2 separate regions of the Homo sapiens genome follow, and region 2 is linked to region 1. Evidence: fine-mapped expression QTL. A gene starts in region 1. The other region holds a variant in brackets. All regions are shown on one strand. Distances are from middle to middle.

Region 1 (15,499 bases):
ACATTTTTATAACATTTTGACATTTTCAAAGCAAACACACCTTGTCATATGATCTTATTTAACCCTCACAACTGCCTGATTACCCCTGTTTTAGAAATAAACCAAGGTTTAGGGTAAGGACTGCCAAGTATTACACTGGCACAATAATTCCAGCCTTCTGAAATCAGGACTAGAAAATTTTCCTCCATACCACACTGGTGTTTCCTTTGACAGCAACCACTACCTACTGAATAATGCCTAAGTCCTTAGCCTGCTACTCAAGGCCTTCCAATAGTATTTTCCACTGTTCCCTATATGGGCTTTAAGCTTTGTCTATAAAGACTATGTTCTTCAGTTACAGTCTTTGCTTTCTCATTTTTGCTCATGCCACTCACTTTTTAGAGATAATTTTTTCTCCCCATTTTTTTTTAACTAGATGAAAACCTCTTCAGTTTTTGTCATACTCTGAAAGACAAGTCTTTCCTCTTCTGTCATTCTCAGAGGTTAGAATAAAAGTTAATCAGCTGGGCGCAGGGGCTCACGCCTGTAATCTCAACACTTTGGGAGGCCGAGGCGGGAGGATCACCTGAGGTCGGGAGTTCGAGACCAGCCTGGCCAGCATGGTGAAACCCCGTGTCTACTAAAAATTCAAAAAAATTAGCCGGGAGTGGTGGCAGGTGCCTGTAATCCCAGCTACTCAGGAAGCTGAGGCGAAAGAATCACTTGAACCTGGGAGACGGATATTGCAGTGAGCCGAGATTGTGCCATTGCACTCCAGCCTGGGCAACAGAGTGAGACTCCACCACAAAAAAAAAAAAAAAAAAAAAAAAAAAAAAAAGTTAAGCCCGGGCGCAATGACTCACGCCTGTAATCCCAGCACTTTGGGAGGCCAAGGTGGGCAGATCACCTGAGGTCAGGAGTTCAAGACCAGCCTGGCCAACATGGTGAAACCTTGTCTAAAAACACAAAACTAAAAACACAAAAATTAGCCGGGCATGGGGGCGTGAGCCTCCAATCCCAGCTACTCAGGTGGCTAAGGCAGGAGGGAGAATCGCTTCAGACTGGGAGGCGAAGGTTGCAGTGAGCCGAGATTGTGCCACTGTACTCCAGCCTGGACAACAGAGTGAGACTCCCTCTCAAAAAAAAAAAAAAAAAGAATAAAATGTAAAGGCTGGGCATGGTGGCTCACACCTGTAATCCCAGCACTTTGGGAGACCGAGACAGGTGGATCACTTGGGGTCAGGAGTTGGAGACCAGCCTGGCAACATCGTGAAACCCTGTCTTTACTAAAAATACAACAATTAGCTGGGTGTGGTGGTGTCTGTCTGTAATCCCAGCTACTCGGGATGCTGAGGCAGGATAATCACTTGAACCGGGGAGGCAGAGGTTGCATTAAGCTGAGATCACGCCACTGCACTCCAGCCTGGGAGACAGAGCAAGACTGTGTCTCATAAACAGAAAAAAAAAATTAAGGATGAAATCAAAGCTGAAAAACCAGGAGGAGTGATGAATTGGCAAATTACAATTTTTTTTTTTTGAGACAAAGTCTCACTCTGTTGCCCAAGCTGGAGTGCAGTGGTGCAATCACTGCTCACTGCAACCTCTGCTTCCTGGGTTCAAGCAATTCTTCTGCCTCTCCTCCGGAGTAGCTGGAACTACAGGCATGCGCCATCGTGTCCGGCTAAGTTTTGTATTTTTAGTAGAGATGGGGTTTCACTACGTTGGCCAGGCTGGTCTTGAACTCCTGACCTCGTGATCCGCCCGCCTCGGCCTTCCAAAGTGCTGGGATTACAGGCGTGAGCCACCACACCCAGTGGCAAATTCCAATTTTTATTTTATTTTATTTTAGCTTTGAGACAGAGTCTCGCTCTGTCGCCCAGGCTGGAGTACAGTGGCGCCATCTCGGCCCACTGCAAGCTCCGCCTCCCAGGTTCCCGCCATTCTCCTGCCTCAGCCTCCGAAGTAGCTGGGACTACAGGCGCCCGCCACCACGCCCGGCTAATTTTTTGTATTTTTAGTAGAGACGGGGTTTCACCGTGTTGACCAGGATGGTCTTGATCTCCTGACCTCATGATCCACCTGCCTCGGGCTCCAAAGTGCTGGGATTACAGGCATGAGCCACCGTGCCCGGCCTCAAATTACTATTTCTAAAGGGCAGTGATAATGCACACAGTATCTTATGATTAAACAGTTTTCTTTTAACTCCACTCAAAATTTACTTTTTCTTCATTTTCCACGTCTGTCTCTATTCTTCCTACTTTTTTTCTCCCACTCTTAAATTTATTTCTTCTTTCTCCCTCCACCATATTTTTTCTTTTTCATATTGTAAAAGATATTTTACATTTTTTTAATTGAATAGAGTGAGTCTCACCAGGCTATTTCAAAATTAGTTGTATCAAGACTTTTATATTCTAAAATCAAAAAGTTGACCAGGTGCGGTGGCTCATGCCTGTAATCCCAGCACTTTGGGAGGCCGAGGCAGGCAGATCACGTCAAGAGATTGAGATCATCCTGGCCAACATGGTGAAACCCCGTCTCTACTAAAAATACAAAAATTAACTGGGCGTGGTGGCACGCACCTGTAGTCCCAGCTACTCGGGAGGCTGAGGCAGGGGAATCGCTTGAACACGGGAGGAGGAGGTTGCAGTGAGTTGAGGTCGCGCCACTGCACTCCAGCCTGGTGACAGAGTGAGACCCCGTCTCAAAAAAAAAAAAAGTTCAGTTTTCTGTGAAATTAAGTTAGTTCCTTTCTAAGGTTGTTGGAGGATTAAGTGAATTACTATTTACAACAATATCTGACATGAGTAAGTATTCCATAAATGATAGCTATTATTGTTGTTCATTTTGAGGGAAGAGAGAGACCCTCTCATATTGTTCTATACTCAGAAAAGGAAAGAGAAGAGAAACTAAAGGCAGGTAGCCCAGTGCCTAGGAACCACACCTGAAACCAGGCCTAGGCCTGCCTGACCTAAGCCTGGTAGTTAAAATTCGACCCGTGACTTAGCAACTGATGTTATCTATAGATTCCATATATTGTATGGAAAGACATTGTGAAACCTCCAGTTCTGTTCTGTTTCGCTCTGACCACTGGTGCTTGCAGCCCCTGTCATGTACCCCCTAGCTTGCTCAATCGATCATGACCCTCTCATGTGGATCCCCTTAGAGTTGTGAGCCCTTAAAAGCACAAGTTGAGCACCTGAAGAGCTCGGCTCTTGAGACAGGAGGCTTGCCGATGCTCCCAGCCGAACAAACCCCTTCCTTCTTTAACTCGGTGTCTGAGGAGTTTTGTCTGAGGCTCCTCCTGCTACAATTTGTTTTAAAAGTATCTGTGGTTGGCCTGGTGGCTCACGCCTGTAGCCCCAGCACTTTGGGCACTGAGGTGGGCGGATCGCTTGAGCTCAAGAGTTCAAGACTGGCCTGCACAATATAGTGAAAGTCTGTCTCTACAAAAAATAAAAAAATTACCCAGGCATGGTGATGCATGCCTGTGGTCCCAGCTACACGGGAGGCTGAGGTAGCAGAATCACCTCAGCCCTGGAAGTGGAAGTTGCAGTGAGTCATGATTGTACTGCTGCACTCCAGCCTGGATAACAGAGCGAGACCCTGTCTCAAAAAAAAAAAAAAAGTACTTGTCAGTGTCTACTACTGTGTGCTAAGCACTTTGCTTGATTTTGCAGAAATGGGGCATAAATAAGTCCCTGCCCTCAGAGAAGAAAATATGTTGGGTAAGATAGATGAATAAACACATTTTAATAGAACATGAGCATTGTGTAAAGACAGTATCTTTGATTTTCACAACTGTTTTACAGATTTTTTTTTTAATTAAATCTTGAGACTTAAAGAAGGGACGTGGGTGAGATAACATAGCCTGTTAGGATCCATACCCAGGTCTAAGTTCAAAGCTCCCTTTCCCTTGTTATCACACTGCCTCAAATTACAGTGCTTTCCACTGATACTGATCTTTGATTATTTTGTTACAATCATTAATGTTTCTGTCACCCTGGAAAGTCTCATAGCCTCACTGCCACCCAGTGCAGTCATGTCTCACATCAGGCCAAAGCCTGGGTGACCAGCTCTTGCAGCCCAACTGCAAAGAATAAATAGAGCCTACTGGCCTAGGGACTCTCAATTCAGACAGTTCTTCCTCAATTCATTTCAGTGTTCACTGGAGAATTGGTAGTTGTTGCCAAACGCCTGTCAGTCAAGAACAGTGGCCTGTTTGTTAGGGTTGTTGCAGTTATTGTGGTGAACACTAATCAGTCATGGGGACCATGACTGTGGCATTCTGGTTTAACCAAAGAGTAAGTTGAGCCTCAAAGGCACAGCTTGCAACAATAGCTTCATTTGAATTACAACATATTTGAAAAGGGATGTCAAATAGGCATTAATTTATGCTACAAACATTTGTTCCAGGACTTCTAAATCTAAGGAATGTGCTAGCCTTTGGGAACTCAAAGATGAATGAGAAATAGACTCTGTTCTTAAAAAGTTTAAGATTTAGTAGAAAAAGATAAGCTGTGTTTATAAATAACCAAAAAATACAGCAGAAAGTGAGAAGTGTCCAAGGAAAATGAAAACTAAGTGCCAGGGTGGCGGGGGGGTGCGTAGAAATGGGAAACTGCCTTCAGCTGGAGCGTTCAGGGAAGGCTTTATTGAGGAGCAGACATTTTAGCTGGGCCTGAAAAGCTTATAGCATTTCAATAAGCAGAAATAAAGAGCATTCTAGTGGGGAGGGAATTGAGCCATCAAAGCCCTGGAGAGGGAAAGTGTAAGGTAAGATTGGGGCACAGTAAAGCCTCCCTTCCTCCTTCAATGGCTAACTCACATTCATCCCTCAAGTCCCAACTCAGACCTCACTTGCTCAAGGTAGACTTCTCGGACCTTCAGTCTACTTCCCTGATCATGTTTCCAAAGCATACTATATCTGTTTAACTTATGTCCCCCTGCTATATTGTAATGTTCATTTGTTTTGTCATTTTATCCACAATCCCATAGCTAGTGCTAAACATTTTGCAAGTGCTTCATGAATATTTATTGCATGAATAGTTGAATGTGGCCTTGTGGAACTGGAATGCAGAGCTCATGAAGGAGAACAGCAGAAGATAATGGTGAAAGGTAGGCCCTTAAATAAAAACAACTGCCGGGCACGGTGGCCCATACCTGTACTCCCAGCACTTTGGGAGGCCAAGGCGGGCGGATCACCTGAGGTCGGGAGTTCAAGACCAGTCTGACCAACATGGAGAAACCCCATCTCTACTAAAATACAAAATTAGCCAGGCGTGGTGGCCCATGCCTGTAATCCCAGCTACTCGGGAGGCTGAGGCAGGAGAATCACTTGAACCCGGGAGGCAGAGGTTGCCGTTAACCAAGATTGCACCATTGCACTCCAGCCTGGGCAACAAGAGTGAAACTCCATCTCAAAAAATAAAAAAAAATAAAAACAATGATACTTATGGAATATTCACTACATGCCAGGTACTACCCAAAACACTTTATGGTTATTAACACATCTAATAACCTCATAATAACCTTATATGGTTAGTAACTATTATTATCCCCCTGTCATAGATGAGGAAATGGGTGTACCAGCAGGTCAAGTAAGTTGTCTCAAGGTAACATAGCTGATAAATAGTACACCTAGGATTTCAGACTCAACCTATCTGATCTCAGAGTCTGCATATTTAACCATGGACCATAGGAAGTGTGGTTAAGACTCCATTAAGATTATTGCAGAAATTCTGAAAGCCATTTTAAAAGTGACATAACCTCACTAAGCCCAAATTAGGGAGAAGCACTGTAGACGTCTACACCCTGGGATGGAGGGGTGAAAGTGGAGGTAGGGGTGGGACTGCAAAGCTTCTGCCTTGATTTGGAGTCTGAGTGGTGCTACCTGCCTACCAATATCCCATCACTAACACCTCTCAGACCCACCATCCAGCTCCTGCTTTCCTCATTTCTGATAATCCCACCCCTGCCATTCCTTCCAAATTACTCTCATAGAGCTCCATTTCTTCCTTCTATCAATTACCTCTCTGCTGATTCCATTCTTTTGTGAACAAATCTCTTTGGTCATTACCTTTTTCATTAAAAGCTCATTCCATTTTTTTGCTGTAATGAAAAACAGGATTTTCTGAGCAGTTAGCTAAATGGCTGGGATAAGTTCACAGCTTCATTCATTCAGTAATCATTTATTCAAAGTCCACATTCCTAGGTCCTAATGCCCTCTTTTTTCTTTCTTTTTTTTTTTGAGACGGAATCTCGCTCTTGTTGCCAGGCTGGAGTGCGGTGGCATGATCTCGGCTCACTGCAACCTCTGCCTCCCGGGTTCAAGCGATTCTCCTGCCTCAGCTTCCCAAGTAGCTGGGACTACAGGTGCGTGCCACCACGCCCAGCTAATTTTTGTATTTTTAGTAGAGACGGGGTTTCACCATGTTAGCCAGGATGGTCTCAATCTCTTGACCGCTTGATCCGCCCACCTCGGCCTCCCAAAGTGCTGGGATTACAGGAGTGAGCCACCGCTCCCGGCCTTTACTGCCCTCTTAAGGCTACTTTCCTCTTTGCTTTTCTACCTTCAGTATCCAACTATGTACTCGTTCTTTAACCTGTTATAATCTGGCTTCCATCTTCACCAACACCCTCAAACTTTGTTCTCCAGATCATTCCCATACCTCCTAATTGTCAAATCCAAGGCCTTTTCTTAAATCTTCAATCTTGTGGCCGGGCGCGGTGGCTCAAGCCTGTAATCCCAGCACTTTGGGAGGCCGAGGTGGGCGGATCACGAGGTCAGGAGATCGAGACCATCCTGGCTAACACGGTGAAACACCATCTCTACTAAAAATACAAAAAAAAATTAGCCGGGCGCGGTGGCAGGCGCCTGTAGTCCCAGCCATTCGGGAGCCTGAGGCAGGAGAATGGCATGAACCCGGGAGGCGGAGCTTGCAGTGAGCCGAGATCAAGCCACTGCACTCCAGCCTGGGCGACACAGCGAGACTCTGTCTCAAAAAAAAAAAAAAAAAAAAGAGAAATCTTCAATCTTGTAATCTCTGGCACTGAGCACTCCATGCCACCTGCTTTTCTTTGTTGGTTTTGTTTTGTTTTGTTTTGAGACAGAGTCTTGCTCTGTTACCCAGGCTGGAGTGCAGTGGCATGATCTTGGCTCACTGCAACCTCCGCCTCCTCGGTTCTAGCTGTTCTTCTTCCTTAGCCTCCCGAGCAACTGGGACTACAGGTGCTCGCCACCACATCTGGCTAATTTTTTTATTTTATTTTTATTTTTTGTATTTTTAGTAGAGACAGGTTTTCATCATGTTGGCCAGCCTGGTCTGAAACTCCTGACCTCAAGTGATCAGCCCAAACCTGCTTCTTTTTGAAACTTTTTCTTTTTGGGTTTTCAGTTTTTCTCCTCCCTCTCCTCCTCCTTATCCTACTTTTATCTTTTCCTACCTCTTTGACTATTCCTTCTGTCACTCTGTCTCCTTGATGTACTGTTTCTAAGGCTGTGCCCTTTGCCTCTATTCTCTCAGCCTTTGTTTCCGTGCAATCTCTAGACTATCACTTTGTGATGGTATCTCCCATGTCATTTTCTCTAGTACTAATTTTTCTTTCTTTCTTTCTTTCTTTTTGTGTGTGTGTGTTTTAGTAGAGACAGGGTTTCACCATGTTGCCCAGGCTGGTCTCGAACTCCTGAGCTCAGGGAGTCCACCCACCTTGGCCTCCCAAAGTGCTAGGATTACATGCGTGAGCCACCACACCCGGCTTCTAGTACTAATTTTTCTGTGGATTTCCGGGCCTGTAATTCCTGGCCTGGATTTCCATCAGTTTTAGTACATCTCCAGACTCTCAAACACAGACTAAACTCATTTCCTTCCACTTCCAACTTCTTTCCCCTTTTTCTTTCCTATTTATATTAATAGCATTCCATTCTTCTGTCAATAGCTTTCACATTCATTGTCACAAAGTCCTGTAAATTGTCTCGTAAAGTTTGTGTTAAATCAGTTCCTTCTTCCTCTTTGCCTTAATTCAGATTATAATCATCTCTCATCCTAGTTTCCCCGCAAAAGTGATCTTTTTAAAAACTGTAAAGTCATGTGACACATCTGTTTAAAGACTTCCCAAGAACTCTGTAGTTTGAAGTTCAGTCTCTGAAGAGAACATTTAAGGCCTTTCACACGCAAATTCCAGCCTCGTTTCCTGCATCCCCACCCAAAAAACTTGGCTCTGGCAACCCACAGAGAACATCTTGTAGAAGCACACCATGACTTTTTACTCTGTGTTTTCCTTCTGCTCTGCTTATCACACTGCAATTTTTTTTTTTTTTGAGACGGAGGCTTGCTCTGTTGCCCAGGCTGGAGTACAGCGGCGCGATCTCGGCTCACTGCAAGCTCCGCCTCCCGGGTTCATGCCATTCTCCTGCCTCAGCCTCCCAAGTAGGTGGAACTACAGGCGCCCGACACCACGCCCGGCTAATTTTTTGTATTTTTTTTAGTAGAGACAGGGTTTCACTGTGTTAGCCAGGATGGTCTCAATCTCCTGACCTCGTGATCCGCCCGCCTCGGCCTCCCAAAGTGCAGGGATTATAGGCGTGAGCCACCACGCCTGGACTGACACTGCAATTTTTTTTCCCCCACTTTGTGTTTTGGATCTCAGGTTCACAGGATTGAATTATTCACATGCCGCAGCTCATGGCATAGTATTACAATTGGCCCTTCCAAAGTCCTTCACTTTTTATTTATCAATTTATTCCTTTTATCCTTATTCCCATTTCTCCTACACTGCAACTTTCTAGTGTGTTTAATGTTTACGCTTTTTTATATTTTCCTTTAAAATAAGTAGTATTTTTAATTTCTATAAATGGTATTATATTATAGATTTTATTGTTTCTTTTTTAACTTAGCACTGTTTTCAAGTTCTGTCCATGTTGCTAAATCTATTGCTTCTGATTGCTGCATTGTACTCCGTGCTGTGCATCCAGCATATTTTACCTATCTACTCCACTGATAACAGACACTATGAATGTTTTATGCCTGACCTCCTGGACACTGGATCACTACCTAAAAGCAGTTCTCAAACCTATCAGGCTCAACAATCTCCTTTAAATATTAATAACAAATACAGTGTCTCCATTATTGTGTAGTGAAATTCAAAAATAATATAATTTACTGTGGTAGGTGACCTCTCAGAAAGCCCCCAGTGATCTCCCCAGCAATATTCTTGCCCTTATGTAATCCCCTCTCCTTGAACTTGGGCTGCACTTTTTTTTTTTTTTTCTGAGATGGAGTCTTGCTTTGTCGGCCAGGCTGGAGTGCAGTGGCACCATCTCAGCTCACTGCAACCTCCGCCTCCCGGGTTCAAGCAATTCTCCTGTCTCAGCCTCCTGAGTAGCTAGGATTACAGGTGTGCATCACCACACCCGGCTAATTTTTGTATTTTTAGTAGAGACAGGGTTTCACCATGTTGGCCAGGCTGGTCTCAAACTCCTGACCTCCTGATCCGCCCACCTCGGCCTCCCAAAGTGCTGGGATTACAGGTGTGAGCCACTGCGCCCAGCCCTAGCTGCACTTTTTTACTTACTTCTAGTGAATAGAATAGGGCAGAAATTATAGGATGTCACTTCCAAAATTAGGTAACAAAAAACCTGTGATTTCTGTCTTTTGGGTTCTCCCACTTGTGTCCTCTGGAGGAAGGCAACTGGCACATTGTGAGCTGCCCTATGGAGTGGATTACATGGCAAGGAACTGAGGGAGACCTCTGGGCAACATCCATTAAAGAACTGAGGCCCTTAGTCCAACAACCTGGAGGAAGTGAAACCTCCAGCAACCTGTGAGTGACTCTGGCAAATTCTCCTCCATCAACACTTGAGGTATGACTGCAGCCCCAGCCAACATCCCGACTGCAACAGGAGGGACCTTGAGCCACAGGCACCCAGTTAAATTGCACCCACATTGCTGACCCACAGAAACTGTGTGATATTTGTTTTAAGCCACTAAGTTTTGGGGTAATTTGTTACAGCAATAAATAACTAATATATCTACCTACTCACATAATTTTGAAAATAACATAATATCCTAACAGGATCCAGTGATCCAGTGGCCAGGAGGTCAGGCATAAAGGTAATATAAAAGTAAAGTAAAAATAGTAACATTTGTTTCAATATATAAATACTCAGGTATGATGGCACTAGGGGGGGATAATGAAGATTTCAGATGCTTCTACCTATATGTAGAATTGCTTTGAATGCAGACTGATTTGGGTGAGTATTGTCGACCTAAAAGGAAGAAGCTGAGGCAAAATTAATATAAATAGAGAGTTTATTTGGGCCAAACTTGAGGATTACAACTCAGCAGCATAAAGTTGCCTAGAATATACACTCTAAGATTAGCAGCAGGTACAAGTGGATTTTTAAAGGAAAAGAATGAGGACAGGGAGTGGGCTGATACAAAGTTGTCTTTAAGGAGTTCTCATTGGTTCACAAAAATAACATTGATTAGTAATTGGCTAAACATTATCAAGCTATAGGGTGTGCGATATGGTGTCTGATGGGGCATAATTAGGCTAATTTATAACTAATACTTGTGGCAATAGCAAGCGGTTTTAAGACATAAATACATAGCTCAAAAGGGGGCAAGCAGGATGTGATTGCCTCTCATTTTAATGCCTCTTTGGGCCTAATAATTTAACTCACATTCCTCAAATCAAAGTTATTTTTTCATTATTCACTATTCAAATTATTACAAGTGATGTTGCTTTTGGTGACGTTATTTCTTGAAATGGTACACAGCTCTTAATGAATTCCAGACCAAACAAAATACAATTACTATTCAATTTTGGGGTAATAACATTCCTAGAAACTTCAACGTACATTAAAAGTGTGGGAAAATGCTTTGTGTTTATTTTTTTAATTTTTATTTTTTGAGGTGGAGTCCCGCTCTGTCACCAGGCTGGAGTGCAGTGGCACAATCCCGGCTCACTGCAACCTCTGCCTCCCGGGTTCAAGCGATTCTCCTGCCTCAGCCTCCCGAGTAGCTGGGATTACAGGCGTGCGCCACTACGCCCAGCTAATTTTTGTACTTTTAATAGAGACGGGGTTTCATCATGTTGGCCAGGATGGTCTTGATCTCCTGACTTTGTGATCCGCCCACCTCGGCCTCCCAAAGTGCTGGGATTACAGGCGTGAGCCACTGCGCCCGGCCGCTTTGTGTTTATTAACAAAGATAGGTTCAACTCTCAGATAATTAGTTTTCACTCACCGAATGTTCAGCAGGACATTCAGAAATCGTGTGTATTACGGGATTTTCTTTATGTAGCATCATCTGTTACACTGTAGGGACATTTATATTATATCCCTAGCTCTGGCCTTCCGATGCCTGTGGTTTTGCCAGCCATTGTTCTGACCAAAAGCCTTCCCCGGTGGACACGGTGGCTCACACTTGTAATCCCAGCACTTTGGGAGGCAGAGCGGGGCAGATCGCTTGAGGCCATGAGTTCCAGACCAGCCTGGGCAATGTGGGGAAACCCCATCTCTACTAAAAATACAAAAATTAGCTGGGCATTGGTGGTGTGCGCCTGTAATCCCAGCTACTTGGAGGCTGAGGTGGGAGGATGGCTTGAGCCCAGCAGGTCTAGGCTGCAGTGAACCCTGATTGCGCCACTTCACTCCATCCCGGGGGACAGTGAGGTTGTGTCTCAAAAAAACAAAAATAAGGCCGGGCATGGTGGCGCACGCCTGTAATCCCAGCTACTCGGGAGGCTGAGGAAGGAGAATCACTTGAGCCCGGGAGGCAGAGGTTGCAGTGGGCCGGGATCGCGCCACTGCACACTTCAGCCTGGGCGACAGAGTGAGACTTCGTCTCAAAAAAAAAAAAAAAAAAAATCAAAAAACCTTCACAAAATTTTAAATGCTTAGTCTCGGGACACCATCTCTTGGAAATTTGTGATGAAGCACAGTATCCCCAATAATTAACACAGTGCTTAGAAACAGTGGAACTACAAATCTTTAAAATGATTTAAAAGCATATTTGTCTGATAAAGGACTGCTGGCTTGCCCTCCTATGATCCATAGCTTCGCAGTCCCCAAACAAGAAGCTGTGATTCAATACGCAGTAGCAAATTCAGGGTGACAACGAGATACTCGCGACCTAGCCCGTGATTTCCTTTTCTTTGTTAGTTTTCAATTCCTTCGGGATTACAGGGAGGCGCTCCGGCCTCCTCCCTTAGAGACTGTCGCATTTCCGCCGCTAGGCCGGAAAGCACCACCGTCCTCCCGCAGGCCGCAGAGGGCTAGGCCCAGCTACGGCCCCGCGCGTCACCGGAAGTGAGGCGGCGGAAGTAGTGTAACCAGCTGGGAGCCAGCCGGCAGGACGCTGTGAGTTGGCGTGCTAGTGGGATGGCAGATGAGGAAGAAGACCCCACGGTGAGTGACCGTCTCTGTCCAAAACCTGTCTTTTCTTCACTCCTTCGGGCTCAGTAGCGGAGGCAGAGTTCAGGATCGGGTCTGCTTGCCTTAGTGAATTCAGCGGACAGAGTTCGGGGACTTCACGCCCTAAGGATTGATCATTTTAGAAAGTGGGGAAGGACATGAAGGAAGAGTAGGTTTTGTGACCCCTTTCCCCTTGATTTTGGTCTGTATTTGCCAGACACTGAAACACGTACAGAATCATCAGAGATCAAAACTAACATCTATTAGCGCGCACTATGAGCCAACAGTTCAATTGTTAACAAAACTGTACTTACTGTGAAGTAATGGGAAAAGAATGCATTGAAAGTCAGACAGCCTGGATTTCAAAATTTCCATTCTCTCTGAGCAAGTTATTTAACTTTGAACATCAGTTTTCTTTTTATAAAATAGGGTTACGGGCTTACTTAAGGAACGTTTTTAGCACTGTATAAGCAAATGCATAGGAAATATTAGTTTTGCTTACTACAAAGTCTACAAAGGTAGACTTTGATTCAGTATCAACTGTTTAACAGTAACAGTAGTAATAGGCCACCTTAGTTGTTTAAAAATAAAACTTATGGTCATTGGAACTCTTACAAGTAGAAGCAGTAGGATTATTAGTTAGGAACATTGTAGAAGCCATTTTTGCATGAGTTGGAAGTTGGACTAGATACATAGGCTCCTTCAATGCTAAGGTTTCGTGGTTTTTTTTTTTGCTGCTTCCTTTGGCTTTCTGGCCTATCTGTTGAAAAGGAAAAAAAAATGTCATTATTAAAATATCAAATGCAAGGCAATTATTTGACATTTCTATATATACATTTTAACTTCTAGTTTGAGGAAGAAAATGAAGAAATTGGAGGAGGTGCAGAAGGTGGACAGGGTAAAAGAAAGAGACTTTTTTCTAAAGAATGTAAGTAGTATTTGACAATGATTTTGTTATAGATGATGAAAACTTTTGGACATGTCCTTTCAAAGTAGCTTTATTGCTTTGAATGTTTCCCTGTAGGGATAATATTCTCAGACTAGCCTATCAAATTCTGTTTAACTTTTGAATCAGATAGTACCAATCCTAACCCCAATTGTGTGTGTGTGTATAAATTGCTTTTTTTTTTTTTTTGAGACGGAGTCTCGCTCTGTCGCCCAGGCTGGAGTGCAGTGGCGCAATCTCTGCTCACTGCAAGCTCCGCCTCCCGGGTTCATGCCATTCTCCTGCCTCAGCCTCCTGAGTAGCTGGGACTACTGGCGCCGGCCACCACGCCCACCTAATTTTTTTTGTGTGTTTTTATTTTGCTTTATTTTATTTTTTTAATTTTTTTAGTATTTATTGATCATTCTTGGGTGTTTCTCAGAGAGGGGTATTTGGCGGGGTCATAGGACAATAGTGGAGAGAAGGTCAGCAGATAAACATGTGAACAAGGGTCTCTGGTTTTCCTAGGCAGAGGACCCTGCGGCCTTCCTCAGTGTTTTGTGTCCCTGGGTACTTGAGATTAGGGAGTGGTGATGACTCTTAACGAGCATGCTGCCTTCAAGCATCTGTTTAACAAAGCACATCTTGCACCGCCCTTAATCCATTTAACCCTGAGGGGACACAGCACATGTTTCAGAGAGCACGGGGTTGGGGGTAAGGTTATAGATTAATAGCATCCCAAGGCAGAAGAATTTTTCTTAGTACAGAACAAAATGGAGTCTCCTATGTCTACTTCTTTCTACACAGACACAGTAACAATCTGATCTCTCTTTCTTTTCCCCACATTTCCCCGTTTTCTATTCGACAAAACCGCCATCGTCATCATGGCCCGTTCTCAATGAACTGTTGGGTACACCTCCCAGACAGGGTGGCGGCAGGGCAGAGGGGCTCCTTACTTCCCAGATGCGGGCGGCCTGGCGGAGGCGCTCCTCAGTTCCCAGACGGGGTCGTGGCCGGGCAGAGGCGCTCCTCACCTCCCAGACGGGGTGGCGGCCGGGCAGCGGTGCTCCTCACCTCCCAGACGGAGTAGCGGCCGAGCAGAGGCGCTCCTCACATCCCAGACGGGGCGGCCGGGCAGAGGTGCTTCCCCACATCCCAGGGGATGGGCAGCCAGGCAGAGACGCTCCTCAATTCCTAGACGGGGTGGCAGCCGGGCAGAGGCTGCAATCTCAGCACTTTGGGAGGCCAAGGCAGGCAGCTGGGAGGTGGAGGTTGTAGCGAGCCGAGATCACGCCACTGCACTCCAGCCTGGGCAGCATTGAGCACTGAGTGAGCGAGACTCCGTCTGGAATCCCGGCACCTCGGGAGGCCGAGGCGGGCAGATCACTCGAGGTCAGGAGCGGAGACCAGCCCGGCCAACACGGCGAAACCCCGTCTCCACCAAAAAATACAAAAACCAGTCAGGCGTGGCGGCGCACGCCTGTAGTCAGGCAGGGAGGCTGCAACGATCCCAGATCGCTGCAGTACAGTCCAGCCTCGGCAACAGAGGGAGACGGTGGAAAGCGGGAGACGCAGACGAGGGGGAGGGGGAGGGAGAGCTTTTTTTGTATTTTTTGTAGAGACGGGGTTTCACTGTGTTAGCCAGGATGATCTCGATCTCCTGACCTTGTGATCCGCCTGCCTCGGCCTCCCAAAGTGCTGGGATTACAGGCGTGAGCCACTGCACCCGGCCTATAAATTGCTTTTTAAGTGAGCAAATGTAATTAGTGTTTTAATTTAGGGCAGAAGAACATACCTCCATTAGTTTTCCTCTTGCCTTTACAGCAGTAGAGAGGCTTCTTTGACTGTAAGCCACAGGTAATAATGGATCCTGCAACAGGTGTTGAGGGAGAGTAGCAAGTGAGTTGGGGCTTGGGCTTTGGACTAAGGCCCTGAACAAAGTAAGAAGGTGGTGAACAGCTGGGTGCAGTGGCTCACGTCTGTAATCCCAGCACTTTGGGAGACTGAGGCGGGTGGATCACTGGAGGTCAGGAGTTCGAGACCAGCCTGGCCAACATGATGAAACCCCGTCTCTACTAAAAATACAAAAATTAACCAGACGTGCTCGCTTGAACCCAGGTGGCAGAAGTTTCAGTGAGCCAAGATTGCGCCACTGCACTCTAGCCTGGGTGACACAGCAA
Region 2 (15,499 bases), 25 kb after region 1:
TTGGGTTAGTGTTTTATTAACATATTTGTAAGTACTTGTTCATTGTGGAAATGTGTCCTTGACTAAAACCATACGTGGCTATGGAAACCATGTTTGTAGTTCTGAATACACAGGTTTTGTGTGTATTTACTCTATGTATTAAATTATTATTGCCCTTAGTTTAAAGTAAGGATTACAATTGGATTTAAGTAGATCACTGAATGTTATTGTTTATGAAACTTAACTTTTTGTATGCTGCTTATAAACATGATCTATAAATCAGTGCTTGGGAAAATTTTACTTTCTTAATCTACTGATACAGGAATAAAATATGAACAATTAAACAGGTTGATCCTTGAATCTGACTGATTTGTGACTTTTTTTCCTCCCAGAATATTATGCCCATTACTGGTAATATGATAATTCTTGCTGCTTAGTCTAGCTGAAAATTTTTTTTATTTCAGTGAGTATCTGGGTGAATCTTTTCATTTAAAAAAGCAGGACTGGGCCGGGCGCGGTGGCTCAAGCCTGTAATCCCAGCACTTTGGGAGGCCGAGGCAGGTGGATCATGAGGTCAGGAGATCGAGACCATCCTGGCTAACACGGTGAAACCCCATCTCTACTAAAAAATACAAAAAAACTTAGCCGGGTGTGGTGGCGGGCGCCTGTAGTCCCAGCTACTCGGGAGGCTGAGGCAGGAGAATGGCGTGAACCCGGGAGGCGGAGCTTGCAGTGAGCCAAGATCACGCCACTGCACTTCAGCCTGGGGGACAGAGCGAGACCCCGTATCAAAAAAAAAAAAAAAAAAAAAAAGCAGGACTGGGCACCATGGCCCATGCCTATAATCCCAGCACTTTGGGAGGCCTAGGCAGGAGGATCTCTTGAGCCCAGGAGTTGGAGACCAGTCTGGGCAACATAGAGAGACCCCATCTCAACTAAAAATCAAGGCCAGGCACAGTGCCTCACACTTGTAATCCCAGCACTTTGGGAGGCCAAGGCAGGTGGATCACTTGAGGTCAGGAGTTCCAGACCAGCCTGGCCAACATGGTGAAACCCTGTCTCTACTAAAAATACAAAAAAATTAGCCGGGCGTGGTGGCATGCCTGTAGTCCCAGCTGCTTGGGAGGCTGAGGCGAGAGGATTGCTTGAGCCCAGGAGTTGGAGACCAGCCTAGGCAAGCCCCATCTCTGTAAAAAAAAAAAAAGAGCCAGGCACAGTGGTTTCCGCTTGTGGTCCTAGCTACTCAGGAGGTGAGGTGGGAGAATCACTTGAGCCTGAGAGGTCAAGGCTTCAGTAAACTGCTCACTCTGTCACCCAGGCTGGAGTGCAGTGGCACAATCACTGCTCACTGCCTCGACCTCCTGTGCTCAAATAATCCTCCCACCTCAGCCTCCCGAGTAGCTGGGACTACAGGCATGCCTGGCTAGAGAACCTATTTCACTGTGTTGCCCAGACTGAGTGGGGCTTTGCGTTGACTATTTTAGGTTGCAAGTGATATAACTTAACTCAATACTATTAATAGCATAAACAAGGAATTTATTGGCTTACCTAACCGACACATGGGAAAGGGGATGGAGCTGAATTTAGGGTTGACTGGATCTAAGTACTTGAGAAGCAAGACTGTCTCTCTGTCTTTTATCCTAATTTTGGTTTTATTCTAAGAGTGGCAAATGAACATGATGGCCAGCAGTTCTGGGGTTCCCTCCTTACAACTCCAAATTGAAGAAGCTGCTTTACTTCGTAATAGAGAAAATTCCAAGCAAGGATTATGAGGATCCGAGCTCTGCTTATTTTCTTCCTGGACCAGTCACTATGGCCAGGAAGAAGTTGTACTATAGCCCGGATCTCTTGCCCCACTTCTGGTAAAAAAGAGCTTGGAATGGGATTGGGATACTAGATACTGCTATTAGCAAAAAGGGGAAAGAGGCTCGGCGGGCTGACTTGATGCCTGAGCTTACTTATTAACTTCAAATTCTGGTAGTAAGGTGGCATGGCTGTCTTCCAGTATTTAGAGCTGCACTGTGTAAATGGTAGCCACTAGCCACATATGGCTGTTTACATTTTAAAATGAAAAATTCAGCTGGGTGCGGTAGCTCACGCCTGTAATCCCAGCTTTTTAGGAGGCCAAGACAGGCAGATCACTTGAGGTCAGAAGTTCAAGACCAGCCTGGCCAACATGATGAAACACCATCTCTACCAAAAATACAAAAATTAGCCGGGTGTGGTGGTACGTGCCTGTAATCCCAGCTACTCGGGTGGCTGAGGCAGGAGAATTGCTTGAACCCAGGAGGCAGAGGCTGCAGTGATCCGAGATCGTACCACTGCACTCCAGACTGGGCAACAGAGTGAGACTCTGTCTCAAAAAATAAAATATTTAAAAAATGATAATAAAATGAAAAATTCACTTCCTTAGTTGCGTTTGCTATATTTCAAGTGCTCAAAACCCTTATGGTAAGTGGGTACAGCATTGGACAGTGCTGATATGGAACACTGCCATCATCACAGAAAATTCTTTTGGACAGTGCTGATCTGGAGTATATATAGGTGCTCTCTCCTAAATTAATTCACTTTTTTTTAAACTTCCTATGGAAAATCTCAAGTATACACAATAATAGTGTAACTAGCCCCCAGCTTCAACAAGTAACCAACTTTTTGCCAATTTGTCCTATCCCCCTACCTTTAAATAATTTTCTTATTTTTAATTTTGGACCTTGGTTTTAGAACCCTTACCTTTTTTAAGGTAGGGGGGCAGTATTATTTTAAAGCAAATCTGGCTGGGTGCGATGGCTCATGCCTATATTCCCAAAACTTTGGGAGGCCAAGGCGAATGGATCACCTGAGGTCAGGAGTTCAAGACCAGCCTGGCCAACACAGTGAAACCCTGTCTCTAATAAAAATACAAAAATTAGATGGGCATAGTCGCGGGAGCCTGTAATCCCAACTATTCGAGAGTCAGGCAAAAGAATCCCTTGAACTCGGGTGGTAGAGGTTGCAGTGAGCCAAGATCGTGCCATTGCACTCCAGCCTGGGCAACAAGAGTGAGACTCCATCTCAAAAAAATAAAAAATAAAAACAAAAGCAAATCCCAGACATCCTTGTATCATTTCATCTATAAATGCTTCAGTACATATCTTTTTTTTTTTTTTTTTTTGTGACATAGTCTCACTCTGTCACCCAGGCTGGAGTGCAGTGGCACGATCTTGGCTCACTGCAACCTCCACCTCCTGGGTTCATGCGATTTTCCTGCCTCAGCCTCCCGAGTAGCTGGGATTACAGGCATCTGCTACCATGCCCAGCGAATTTTTGTATTTTTAGTAGAGATGGGGTTTCACCATGTTGGCTAGGCTCGTCTTGAATTCCTGACCTCAAGTGATCCACCTGCCTCAGCCTCCCAAAGTGTTGGGATTACAGGTATGAGCCAATGTGCCTGAGCTTCAGCACATATTTCTAACAAAGTTTAAAAAGCCCACATATTATTACCATATCCTATCAAAAATTAACACTAATTCCTCAATATTCCATCTAATACCCAATTCCTGTTAATTTTTTTATTTTTTTGAAATAGGGTCTTGCTCTGTTGCCCAGGCTAGAGTGCAGTGGCATGATCATGGCTTACTACAGCCTTTGCCTCCTGGGTTCAAGCAGTCCTCCCACCTTAACCTCCCAAGTGGCTAGGACTACAGGTGTGCAGCACCACAACTGGGTAATTTTTAAAATTTTTTTGTAGAGAGACAGGTCTCACTATGTTGCCCAGGCTGGTCTTGAACTCCTGGGTTAAAGCAATCCTCCTGCCTTAGTCCTGCCAAAGTACTGGAATGATTGCAGGCGTGAGCCACAGTGCCTGATGCCAAATCCTGGTTTAAATCTTGCTGATTTGTCTCAACATATCTTTTTTGAGTGTGTGTATTAATCTCAATTGTTACTGTAACAAATTACAGCTCATTTAGTGACTTAACACACATTTATTATTTAACTAGTTCTCTAGGTAAGAAGTTTGACCCTAGCTCGGATCACGAGGTCAGGAGATCGAGACCATCCTGGCTAACACAGTGAAACCCCGTCTGTACTAAAAAATACAAAAAAATTAGCCTGGCATGGTGGTGGGCACATGTAGTCCCAGCTACTCGGGAGGCTGAGGCAGGAGAATGGTGCGAACCCAGGAGGCAGAGCTTGCAGTGAGCCGAGATTGCGCCACTGCACTCCAGCCTGGGCAACAGAGTGAGACTCCACCTCAAAAAAAAAAAAAAAAAGTTTGACCCTAGCCTTACTGTGCTAAAATCAAGGTGCTGACACAGTTGTGTTCCTTTCTGGATGTTCTAGGAGACACCTGTTTGCTTGCCTTTTACAACTTGTAAAGGCTACATTTCTTGGCTCATGTTACCCTTCTTCAAAGCTAGCTAGCAATGTTGCATCTCCCTGGCCTGTGACTCCAGCTGGTAAGGATTCTCTGTGATATTGGACCCACCTGGATAACCCAGAATACTCTCCCCATTTCAAGGTTCTTAAGTTAATCATGGAAGCAAAATCTCTTTTTACCATGTCAAGTAACATATTCTCAGGTCCTGGGAATTAGGATGTGGACTTTTTTTTTTTTTTTTTTTGAGATGGGGTCTCGCTTTGTGACCCAGGCTGGAGTGATCATAGCTCACTGCAGCCTCCAACTCCTGTCAAGCAATCCTCCTGCCTCAGCCTACAGAGTAGCTAGGGCTATAGGCAACACACCACTATGCCTAGCTAAAGGAAGTAGACATCTGTGAGGGGTTATTATTCTGCTTCCCACATTGTCTTTGAAGTAGGATCTAAACAAGGTGTCACCCATTGCATTTGTTTGGTATGTCTAAATTTCTTTTAATCTATAGTAATTCCCTCCAAGCTTTGTGGCTTTTTGTTGTTGTTGTTAGAGACAGGGTCTTGCTCTGTCACTCAGGCGGGAGTGCAGTGGCAGGATCATAGCTCACTGCAGCCTTGAACTCTTGGGTTCGTCATCCTCATGCCTCAGCCTCCCAAGTAGTTAAGACTACACTGCACCTGGCTAATTTTTTTCTTAATTTTGTAGAGATGGAGTCTCACTATGTTGCCCAGGCTGGCCTTGAACTCCTGTCCTCAAGCCATTCTTCTGCCTCAGATTCCCAAAGTTCTGGGATTATAGGCATGAGCCACGGTGCCCAGCCTCCAATTTTATTGAAGCACTCTCTCTTTTTTTTTGAGACCGAGTCTCACTCTGTTGCCCAGGCTGGAGTGCAGTGGCGTGATCTTGGCTCACCACAACCTCTACCTCCCAGGTTCAAACAATTCTCCTGCCTCAGCCTCCTGAGTAGCAGGGATCACAGGCAGGTGCCACCATACCCAACTAATTTTTGTACTTTTTTAGTAGAGACAGGGGTTTCGCCATGTTGGCCAGGCTGGTCTCAAACTCCTGACCTCAGGTGATCCACCTGCCTCAGCCTCCCAAAGTGCTGGGATTACAGGCGTGAGCCACCATGCCCGGCCGGAAATGGTGTTCTTGAGTAAAAACTGTAATAGTGTAAGTGTAGAAATTTTAAAGTGGAGGAAAGAGCTCACTTGGCCTGTCATCAGTGGAGAAAGGTGCTGCCTGGAGAGTCATCTGGCCATTTTCCAAGAGACTTTGGGAGGTTGCATTACTTGAATGAGTATACTATAGTCCAGAGCCAGAGTTTGATTTGCAGCATTGCAGGCTTAGAAACTGATTTCATCAGCAAATAGCACATTCATCTCTGTGGGTGCGCTCATAGAATCCAAACTTATAAGACCAATGTATGAAAACGGATACCAGTTTATAGATGTAAGTAAAACTTGCACCTATATGATCAGCACATTCTTCCTTCTCTAGACATACACATGTAGGAAATGAAAACAAAATTATGAGGGTGAATGACAGTGAGAGGAGTTACATGAATGCATCGTCTAGAGCAGTGGTCCCCAACCTTTTTTGTACCAGGGACCAGTTTTGTGGAAGACAGTTTTTCTACGGACTGGGGTGAGGGTGATGGGGGGATGGTTTCGTGATGATTCAAGCGCATTACATTTATTGTGCACTTTATTTCTATTATTATTACATTGTTTTATTTTTTTACACACACGCCCATTTAATTATTTTTATTTTTATTTATTTATTTATTTATTTTTGAGATGGAGTCTCACTCTGCTGCCCAGGCTGGAGTGCAGTGGGGCGATCTTGGCTCACTACAACTTCTGCCTCCCAGATTCAAGCGATTCTCCTGCCTCGGCCTCCTGAGTAGCTGGAATTACAGGTGCCCGCCACCACACCCGGCTAATTTTTGTATTTTTAGTAGAGACGGGTTTTCACCATGTTGGTTAGGCTGGTCTCGAACCCCTGACCTCGTGATCCGCCCGCGCTGGCCTCCCAAAGTGCTGGGATTACAGGCGTGAGCCATTGTGCCCTGCCTAATTTTTTTTTTTCTTAAAGAGATGAGGTCCTGCCATGTTGCCCAGGCTCATCTTGAACTCTTGGACTTAAGCCATCCACCCGCCTCATCCTCCCAAAGTGCTGGGATTACAAGTTTGAGGCACCGCACCCAGCCTAAAACCAAAAACTTTTTAAAGCCCTGCCTACATCACAGAACACACCCATTTCTCTAGGTCTGATTTTCTTACAGTCCCCATGTTTTCCTTCTTGCCACAAATAGATACTGGAAGTGTGGATGATCAGGGAACAAAGTGTTAAATGTGTTGTTGAAGGCTGCTGCTTTTCCTGGGCCCTTGTAAATGACTACATGAGTTATTCACACCATTAAATTATGCGATAGGGCAGTCTGGGCCCTATCTCTACAAAAATAAGAAATAAAATTAGCGAGGTGCAGTGGCACGCCCTTGGAGTCCTAGGTACTTGGGAGGAGTGGTCCTAGATGGGAGGATCACTTGAGTCCAGGAGTTCGAGGTTACAGTCAGCTATGATTGCACCACTGCACTCCAGCCTGGGCAACAAAAGGAGACCCTATCTCAAAAATAAAAAAAATGAAAAAATCTGCCCAGT[C/T]CTGTAAATCTAGCACCTCTGGAAGCCAAGGTGGGAGATTCATTTGAGGCCAGGAATTCAAGATCAGCCTGGGCAATATACTGAAACCCTGTCTCTTAAAAAAAAAGAAAAAGGCCAGGCGCAGTAGCTCACACCTGTAATCCCAGCACTTTGGGAGGCCGAGGCGGGCAGATCACCTGAGGTCAGGAGTTTGAGACTAGCCTGTCCAATATGCAGAAACCCCGTCTCTACTAAAAATACAAAATTAGCCAGGCATGGTGGCACACACCTGTAATCCCAGGTACTCGGGAGGCTGAGGCAGAAGAATTGCTTGAACCCAGGAGGCGGAGGTTGTGGTGAGCTGAGATCGCGCCATTGCACTCTAGCCTGGGTAACAAGAGTGAAACTCCGTCTCAAAAAAAAACAAAAACAAGGCCGGGCGCGGTGGCTCACGCCTGTAATCCCAGCACTTTGGGAGGCCGAGGCGGGCGGATCACGAGGTCAGGAGATCGAGACCATCCTGGCTAACACGGTGAAACCCCGTCTCTACTAAAAATACAAAAAATTAGCCGGGCGAGGTGGCGGGCGCCTGTAGTCCCAGCTACTCGGGAGGCTGAGGCAGGAGAATGGCGTGAACCCCAGGGGGCGGAGCCTGCAGTGAGCCGAGATTGCGCCACTGCACTCCAGCCTGGGCGACAGCGAGACTCCGTCTCAAAAAAAAAAAAAAAAAAAAAAAAAAAAAAAAAAAAAAAAACAAAAACAAAAACAAAAAGAAACACAAAAATTATGGGATTGGTTCAAGGAAAACGTTTTCATATATTGAGTATTTATTAAACACCTATTGTATCTGAGACAGCATAGGTATCATTTTGTTATGTGGTATCCAGATAAGTGGAGTAAGTGGAATTCTTTTTTTTTTTTTTTTTGAGACGGAGTCTCACTCTGTCACCCAGGCTGGAGTGCAATGGCATGGTCTCGGCTCACTGCAAGCTCTGCCTCCTGGGTTCAAGCGATTCTCCTGCCTCAGCCTCCCGAGTAGCTGGGACTACAGGCTTGTGCCACCACACCTGGCTAATTTTTGTATTTTTATTTTTGTATTTTATTTGTATTTTATTTTTGAGACGGAGTTTTGCTCTTGTTTCCCAGGTTGGAGTACAGTGATGCAATCTTGGCTCACTGCAACCTCCACCTTCCGGTTTCCAGCGATTCTCCTACCCAGCTAATTTCTGTATTTTTAGTAGAGATGGGGTTTCACCATGTTGGCCAGGCTGGTCTCAAACTCCTGACCTCGTGATCTGCCTGCTTCGGCCTCCCAAAGTACTGGAATTACAGGCATGAGCTACCGCGCCTGGCTTAATTTTTGTATTTTTAGTAGAGACAGAATTTCACTATGTTGGCCAGGCTGGTCTCGAATTCCTGACCTCATGATCCACCCGCCTCGGCCTCCCAAAGTGTTGGAATTACTTTGGGCGTGAACCACCACGCCTGGCATTTTTTTTTTTTCCAAGACAGAGTCTTGCTCTGTCACCCAGGCTGGAGTGCAGTGGTGCAACCTCGGCTTGCTGCAACCTCCACCTCCCAGGTTCAAATGATCCTCCTGCCTCAGCCTCCTGTAGCTGGGACTACAGGGGCACGACATCATGCCCAACTAATTTTTTTTTTTTTAGTATTTATTGATCATTCTTGGGTGTTTCTCAGAGAGGGGGATTTGGCAGGGTCATAGGACAATAGTGGAGGGAAGGTCAGCAGATAAACATGTGAACAAGGGTCTCTGGTTTTCCTAGGCAGAGGACCCTGCGGCCTTCCTCAGTGTTTTGTGTCCCTGGGTACTTGAGATTAGGGAGTGGTGATGACTCTTAAGGAGCATGCTGCCTTCAAGCATCTGTTTAACAAAGCACATCTTGCACCGCCCTTAATCCATTTAACCCTGAGGGGACACAGCACATGTTTCAGAGAGCACGGGGTTGGGGGTAAGGTTATAGATTAACAGGATCCCAAAGCAGAAGAATTTTTCTTAGTACAGAACAAAATGGAGTCTCCCATGTCTACTTCTTTCTACACAGACACAGTAACAATCTGCTCTCTCTTTCTTTTCCCCACATTTCCCCCTTTTCTATTCGACAAAACCGCCATCGTCATCATGGCCCGTTCTCAATGAGCTGTTGGGTACACCTCCCAGACGGGGTGGCGGCCGGGCAGAGGGGCTCCTCACTTCCCAGACGGGGCAGCCGGGCAGAGGCGTCCCCCACCACCCTCCCGGACGGGGCGGCTGGCCGGGCGGGGGTTGCCCACGACCTCCCTCCTGGACGGGGCGGCTGGCCGGGTGGGGGCTGCCCCCCACCTCCTGGACGGGGCAGCTGCCGGGCGGAGACGCTCCTCACTTCCCAGATGGGGCGGCTGCTGGGCGAAGGGGCTCCTCACTTCCCAGACGGGGTGACTGCCGGGCGGAGGGGCTCCTCACTTCTCAGACGGGGCGGCCGGGCAGAGACGCTCCTCACCTCCCGGACGGGGTGGCGGTCGGGCCGAGAGGCTCCTCAGTTCCCAGACGGGGTCGCGGCCGGGCAGAGGCGCTCCTCACATCCCAGATGGGGCGGCGGGGCAGAGGCGCTCCCCACATCTCAGATGATGGGCGGCCGGGCAGAGACGCTCCTCACTTCCTAGACGGGATGGCGGCCGGGAAGAGGCGCTCCTCACTTCCCAGACTGGGCGGCCGGGCAGAGGGGCTCCTCACATCCCAGAGGATGGGCGGCCAGTCAGACGCTCCTCACTTCCCAGACGGGGTGGCGGCGGGGCAGAGGCTGCAATCTCGGCACTTTGGGAGACCAAGGCAGGCGGCTGGGAGGTGGAGGTTGTAGCCAGCCCAGATCACGCCACTGCACTCCAGCCTGGGCAACATTGAGCACTGAGTGAGCGAGACTCCGTCTGCAATCCCGGCACCTCGGGAGGCCGAGGCGGGCAGATCACTCCATGTCAGGAGCTGGAGACCAGCCCGGCCAACACGGCGAAACCCCGTCTCCACCAAAAAATGCAAAAACCAGTCAGGCGTGGCTGCGCGCGCTTGCAATCCCAGGCACTCTTCAGGCTGAGGCAGGACAATCAGGCAGGGAGGCTGCAGTGAGCCGAGATGGCGGCAGTACAGTCCAGCCTCTGCTCGGCATCAGAGGGGAGACCGTGCAAAGAGGGAAAGGAAGAGTGGGAGGGGGAGGGAGCCCAACTAATTTTTGTAGAGACAAGATTTCACAGTGTTGGCCAGGCTGGTCTGGAACTCCTGACCTCAAGTGATTGCCCACCTCAGCCTTTCAAAGTGCTGGGATTACAGGTGTGATTCTGATAAGTGGAATTCTAAAGTTAGAAATAGGGCTGGGTGAGGTGGCTCATGCCTATAATCCCAACACTTTGGGAGACCTAGGCAGGCAGATCACTTGAGCCAAGGAGTTTGAGACCAGCCTGGGCAACATGGCAAAACCCTGTCTCTACAAAAATTAGCTGTGTGTGGTGACGGGCGCCTGTAGACCCAGCTACTGAGGAGGCTGAGGTGGGAGGATTGCTTGAGCCTCGGAGGTGGAGGTTGCAGTGAGCTGAGATTACACCACTGCACTCCAGCCTGGGCAACAAAGCAAGGTCCAGTCTCAAATAACTAAATACAATGAAATAAAGTAAGGAGCAAATTTCTTATGTGTTACCAGTAGATTGATAGAAGTTCCTATTTGAACTTTTGTACAAAATCTCATGTTATTTGTAGCACTGAGACTTCCATGTATAATACTTTATTATGGTTATACCTAATATTATGATTATTTCTGCTTACACAGAGAACCTGGTAGACTGCCTTGATATCATTGGGTACATTCTTTTAGGATCAGAACAATTGCTAAAGCAAAAATCATTTTTCAATTTGTATTTGCATGGCCATTTTAGATAAATAACTGAAATTTTATTGGAAAGAGCCTGTATAGTTACTGACCAAGCTCTAAAAGAAATGCTAATACTATACTTATTTTTTCTGAAATAGGGTTTTTGTAAGTATTTTGGAGGCATATGAACTTATAAGACACCAATCAAGACTTGTTTTGGTGATTATGACATTTCTTCCATCTTTATAGGAAGTTCTACTAAATGGTCACAAGTTTATTACCGGAAACTTTCTAACCTTATCCTAAAACACTTATCTGAAATTATGATGCTTAATGTGCTTTAGGTATTACTAACATTTCCTAACATTTAGTTTCCCCTTTTAAAAATTTTGACATATGGCCAGGCACGGTGGCTCACGCATGTAATCCCAGCACTTTGGGAGGCCGAGGCAGGTGGATCACGAGGTCAGGAAATCAAGACCATCCTGGCTAACACGGTGAAACCCTGTCTCTACTAAAAAAAAAAAACACAAAAAATTAGCTGGGTGTGGTGGTGGGCGCCTGTAGTCCCAGCTACTCGGGTGGCTGAGGCAGGAGAATGGCGTGAACCCGGGAGGCAGAGCTTGCAGTGAGCTGAGATTGTGCCACTGCACTCCAGCTGGGGCGACAGAGCGAGACTCTGTCTCAAAAAAAAAAAAAAAATTTACATATTTCACTGACTTGATTAAAGTGGATGTTTTCCAAAATAATTTATTTTATTTTTATTTTCAAGAATATATCAGATATTTACTTAATATAAATAACAGCATATCTCTTTTATGTACAACCAAGTTTTTGTTTAGAGGTCTAGATAGGAGCCCTGGAAGACCCAGGTAATTCTACCTCTGTTGCCCAGATTGGAGTGCAGTGGCGCGATCTCAGCTCACTCCAACCTCTGCCTCTTGGGTTCAAACGTGCGCCACCACGCCCTGCTAATTTTTGCATTTTTCAGTAGAGACAGGGTTTCTCCATATTGGCCAGGCTGGTCTCAAACTCCTGACCTCAGGTGATCCGCCCCTCTCAGCTTCCCAAAGTGTTGGGATTACAGGCGTGAGCCGCGGTGCCTGGCCCTTGAATCTGTTTAAAGGAGAAGCAGCAGTGGTGGTGCTTTGTTCTCCTAAAGCCTCACTTAGGTTAATTCCATATCTTGGTTAGGTGCTACTGGCTCTGAAGCACAAAGCTTTTTGATGTGTGTATGTATGTGCGTGTTCTAGTAATGGGAGTGGAGCTTCTAAAACACGTTCTCTTAGCTCCACAAACTTCCCCTGAATTCCTTGAGGCAAAGTTTCCTAGCTTGGGCTTGTACTCAGACTCCTTTCTCCTATTTGGGGAAAACCAAAAACTCCTATTCTCCTTTTTAGAGATAACATTTAAGAATCACATTAAAAGAGGTCCACCTTAGCCTATAGGCGTTTAAGTCACAAGGCACCATGAATCATTCTGTCATGTAAGAACCTGCATTTCCAAATGATGCCTAACCTAGTTCCTGACCCAGAACTGGCATTCAGTTAATATTTGGTGAATGATTGAGGCAGTACCTTGGAATCTGAGGACAGTCCTTCATCTAAGCAAGCCTTGTCCTCTTTGAACAATTGACTGCTATTGCAGCAACTAGAGTGAAAGACAGGAAGATCTAATCTTAACCAGTGTGGCTGAGTATAGAAGGAAAGGTGATACCTTAGGCTACCAGCTATTAAGGTTGTAGTGTAAACTTTGATGTTACATTAAGAAACAAATATACAGTCAATGCGTTTATAAGTATGCAAGTGATAAGATGTACCAGATGTCTTGTGTTTCGGTGCCTCTTTCTTTCTCTCCTTCCACCTTCTTTTTTCCAGAAATATAATGGTGGTATATTTGCTTCTAACAATGTTGAGTCCTATTCATTGAAAATGCATATGCAAATAGCACTATGCTATAGGTTATGGAGAATATAAACACTAATAAGACCTCTTATCTTCTCTACCTTGTCAGAATAGGGTCCATTTTATTCAAGCTAAAATTTCTGGCTGAGCATGGTGGCTTAAGCCTATAATCCCAGCACTTTGAGAGGGAGTGCAGTGACACAATCATGGGTCACTGCAATCCTTGACCTTCCAGACTCAAGCGATCCTCCTGCCTCAGTCTCTCCAGTAGTTGGGATAACGTGTTACCATGGCAGGCTATTTTTTTTATTTTTATTTTTAGTTGAGATGGGGTCCCACTATGTTGCCCAGGCTGGTCTCGAACTCCTGGGCTCAAGGGATCCTCCCACCTTGGCCTCCCAAAGTGCTGGGATTACGGGCATGAGCCACTGTGTCTGGCCCAAAATTTCTTTTTTTTTTGAGATGGAGTCTCGCCCTGTCGCCCAGGCTGGTGTGCAGTGGCGCCATCTCAGCTCACTGCAGGCTCCGCCGCCTCCCAGGTTCACGCCATTCTCCTGCCTCAGCCTCTCGAGTAATTGGGACTACAGGCACCTGCCACCATGCCCAGCTAACTTTTTGTATTTTTAGTAGAGACGGGGTTTCACCACGTTAGCCAGGATGGTCTCAATCTCCTGACCTTGTGATCCACCCGCCTCGGCCTCCCAAAGTGCTGGGATTACAGGCATGAGCCACCGTGCCCGGCCATCTGGCTCAAAATTTCTTAGAACAATTAGCCAGGCAAGGTGGCTCATGCCTGTAATCCCAGCTACTCAAGAAGCTGAGGCTAGAGGATAGTTTGAGCCCAGGAGTTTGAGACTGTGGTGAGCTATAATCATGCCACTATACTCCAGCCTAGGTGACACTTTAGCCTGGGTGAGAAAGTGAGACTCTGTCTCTTAAATAAATAAATAAATACTAAAATAAAATTTTCAGTTAATATAATGTAGAATGAGGCAGGGCACGGCGGCTGATGCCTCTAATCCCAGCACTTTGGAGGGTGAGGCTGGCAGATCACTTGAGGTCAGGAGTTTGAGACCAGCCTGGCCAACACAGTAAGACCCCGTCTCTACTAAAAATACAAAAAATTAGCTGGGTGTGGTGGTGCACGCCTGTAATCCTAGCTACTTGGGAGGCTGAGGCAGGACAATCGCTTGAACCAGGGAGGGAGAGCTCGAAGTGAGGTGAGATTGCACCACTGCACTTCAGCCTAGGTGAGACTCCCTCTCAAAGATAAGAAATCATACTAATGTGGTAGAATAGAAAAAGAAAGTTTTAAGAGTCAGAATGTCTCTGCTACATACTAGCTGTGTGACCTTGGGCAAGTTATTTTCTTTAATCACTCAAATAGGAATAATTAATAGGTGTTTTAAGGGAGATTATGAGGCTTAAATGAGAACATAAGCAAAGCATTTCATTTTGTGTTCAATGAATGCCAAAGCCAATCTAATACTTCACTGGGGTTTTCCTTCCTTCCTTCCTTTCTTTTCTTTCCCTTCCTTCTTTCCTTCCTTCCTTCCTTCTCTCCTTCCTTCCTTCCTTTTCTTTCCCTTCCTTCCCCCCTCCGTCCCTCCCTCCCTTCTTTCCTTTTCTTTCCCTTCCTTCCCTCCTCCCTCCCTCCCTCACTCCCTCCCTCCCTCCCTCCCTTCCTTCCTTCCTTCCTTCTGATGTAACTGTGGCAGTCTTATATTTGCAACTCAAGAAGGAATCAACTGCGTTCCAAAACAGCTAAATATGCAGGTCACCCAAAAAAGGTTTTGTTTGTTTGTTTGTTTGTTTTGAGACAGAGTCTCACTCTGTCTCCCAGTCTGGAGTGCAGTGGTACGATCTCGGCTCACTGCTGCAATCTCTGCCTCCCAGGTTCAAGCAATTCTCCTACCTCAGCCTTCTGAGTAGCTGGTATTACAGGCGCCCACCACCACTCCCAGCTAATTTTTGTATTTTTAGTAGAGATGGGGTCTCATCACGTTGGCCAAGCTGGTCTCGAACTCCTGACCTCAAATGATCCACCCGCCTAAGCCTCCCAAAGTGCTGGGATTACAGGTGTGAGCCATGGCGCCTGGCCATGAAGGTATTATTATTATTATTATTATTATTATTATTGTTATTATTATTGAGACAGAGTCTCTCTGTGTTGCCCAAACTGGAGCGCAGTGGTGCAATCTCGGCTCACTGCAACTTCTGCCTCCCGGGTTCAAGCGATTCTCCTGCCTCAGCATCCTGAGTAGCTGGGATTACAGGCGCCTAACACCACGCCTGGCTAATTTTTGTATTATTAATAGAGATGGGATTTCACCATGTTGGTCAGGCTGGTCTCAAACTCCTGACCTCGTGATCTGCCCACCTCGGCCTCCCAAAGTGTTGGGATTACAGGCATGAGCCACTGCGCCTGGCACAGGTATTTTTTAAACTGCCACATTCACTCCGAAGCCCATTCATCTCCTTCAGCATCCCACAGATGAAGCACATGTTCCGCTTAGCTTGATAACAAGGTGAGGCACACTTTGCACTGCTGACGTCACAGGAAAGCTGTCTATAAAACTATACTTCTGATACTGGGCTCCAGCTTTGTTCTCACAGGTAATCATCCTCATCCAGGAGAGCAGCTGTCTGAGCAAACTCTAACTCATGCTCTTATTGCTCTGTCAAAGCTGGGTCCATGACAACCTCAGGTAGGGGAGTACAGGGTAGCAAACCCCAAGTTAGGGCCTCCAATGAGCTTCCTAGCAAGC

Direction of the effects. Alleles are on the strand shown, and positions count from the first base shown. SD is a standard deviation of normalised expression in the study named.
For the expression in subcutaneous fat of the gene that starts at base 12,306 in region 1, allele C in region 2 goes with a lower level than allele T (moderate effect, 0.59 SD a copy in TwinsUK).

What was found. PIP is the estimated chance that this variant, and not a neighbour inherited with it, causes the effect.
Region 2: its variant is fine-mapped to the expression of TAF13 in subcutaneous fat (TwinsUK, PIP 0.95).

Annotation. Positions count from the first base shown.
Region 1 is chr1:109,072,810-109,088,308 of GRCh38, reverse strand. It overlaps TAF13 (TATA-box binding protein associated factor 13), which reads left to right and starts at 12,306. Exons shown (of 4, transcript NM_005645.4): 1 at 12,306-12,388; 2 at 13,244-13,322. The coding sequence starts at 12,362. It overlaps TMEM167B-DT (TMEM167B divergent transcript), which reads left to right and starts at 3,559. Exons shown (of 2, transcript XR_947688.3): 1 at 3,559-5,094; 2 at 9,663-10,017. RefSeq lists enhancers at 12,049-12,298, 12,399-12,458, 13,063-14,049.
Region 2 is chr1:109,047,326-109,062,824 of GRCh38, reverse strand. It overlaps the pseudogene RANP5. Among named protein-coding and RNA genes, the nearest start is that of WDR47, 13 kb to the right of the region's middle. The variant C/T (reference allele first, on the strand shown) is at 6,995.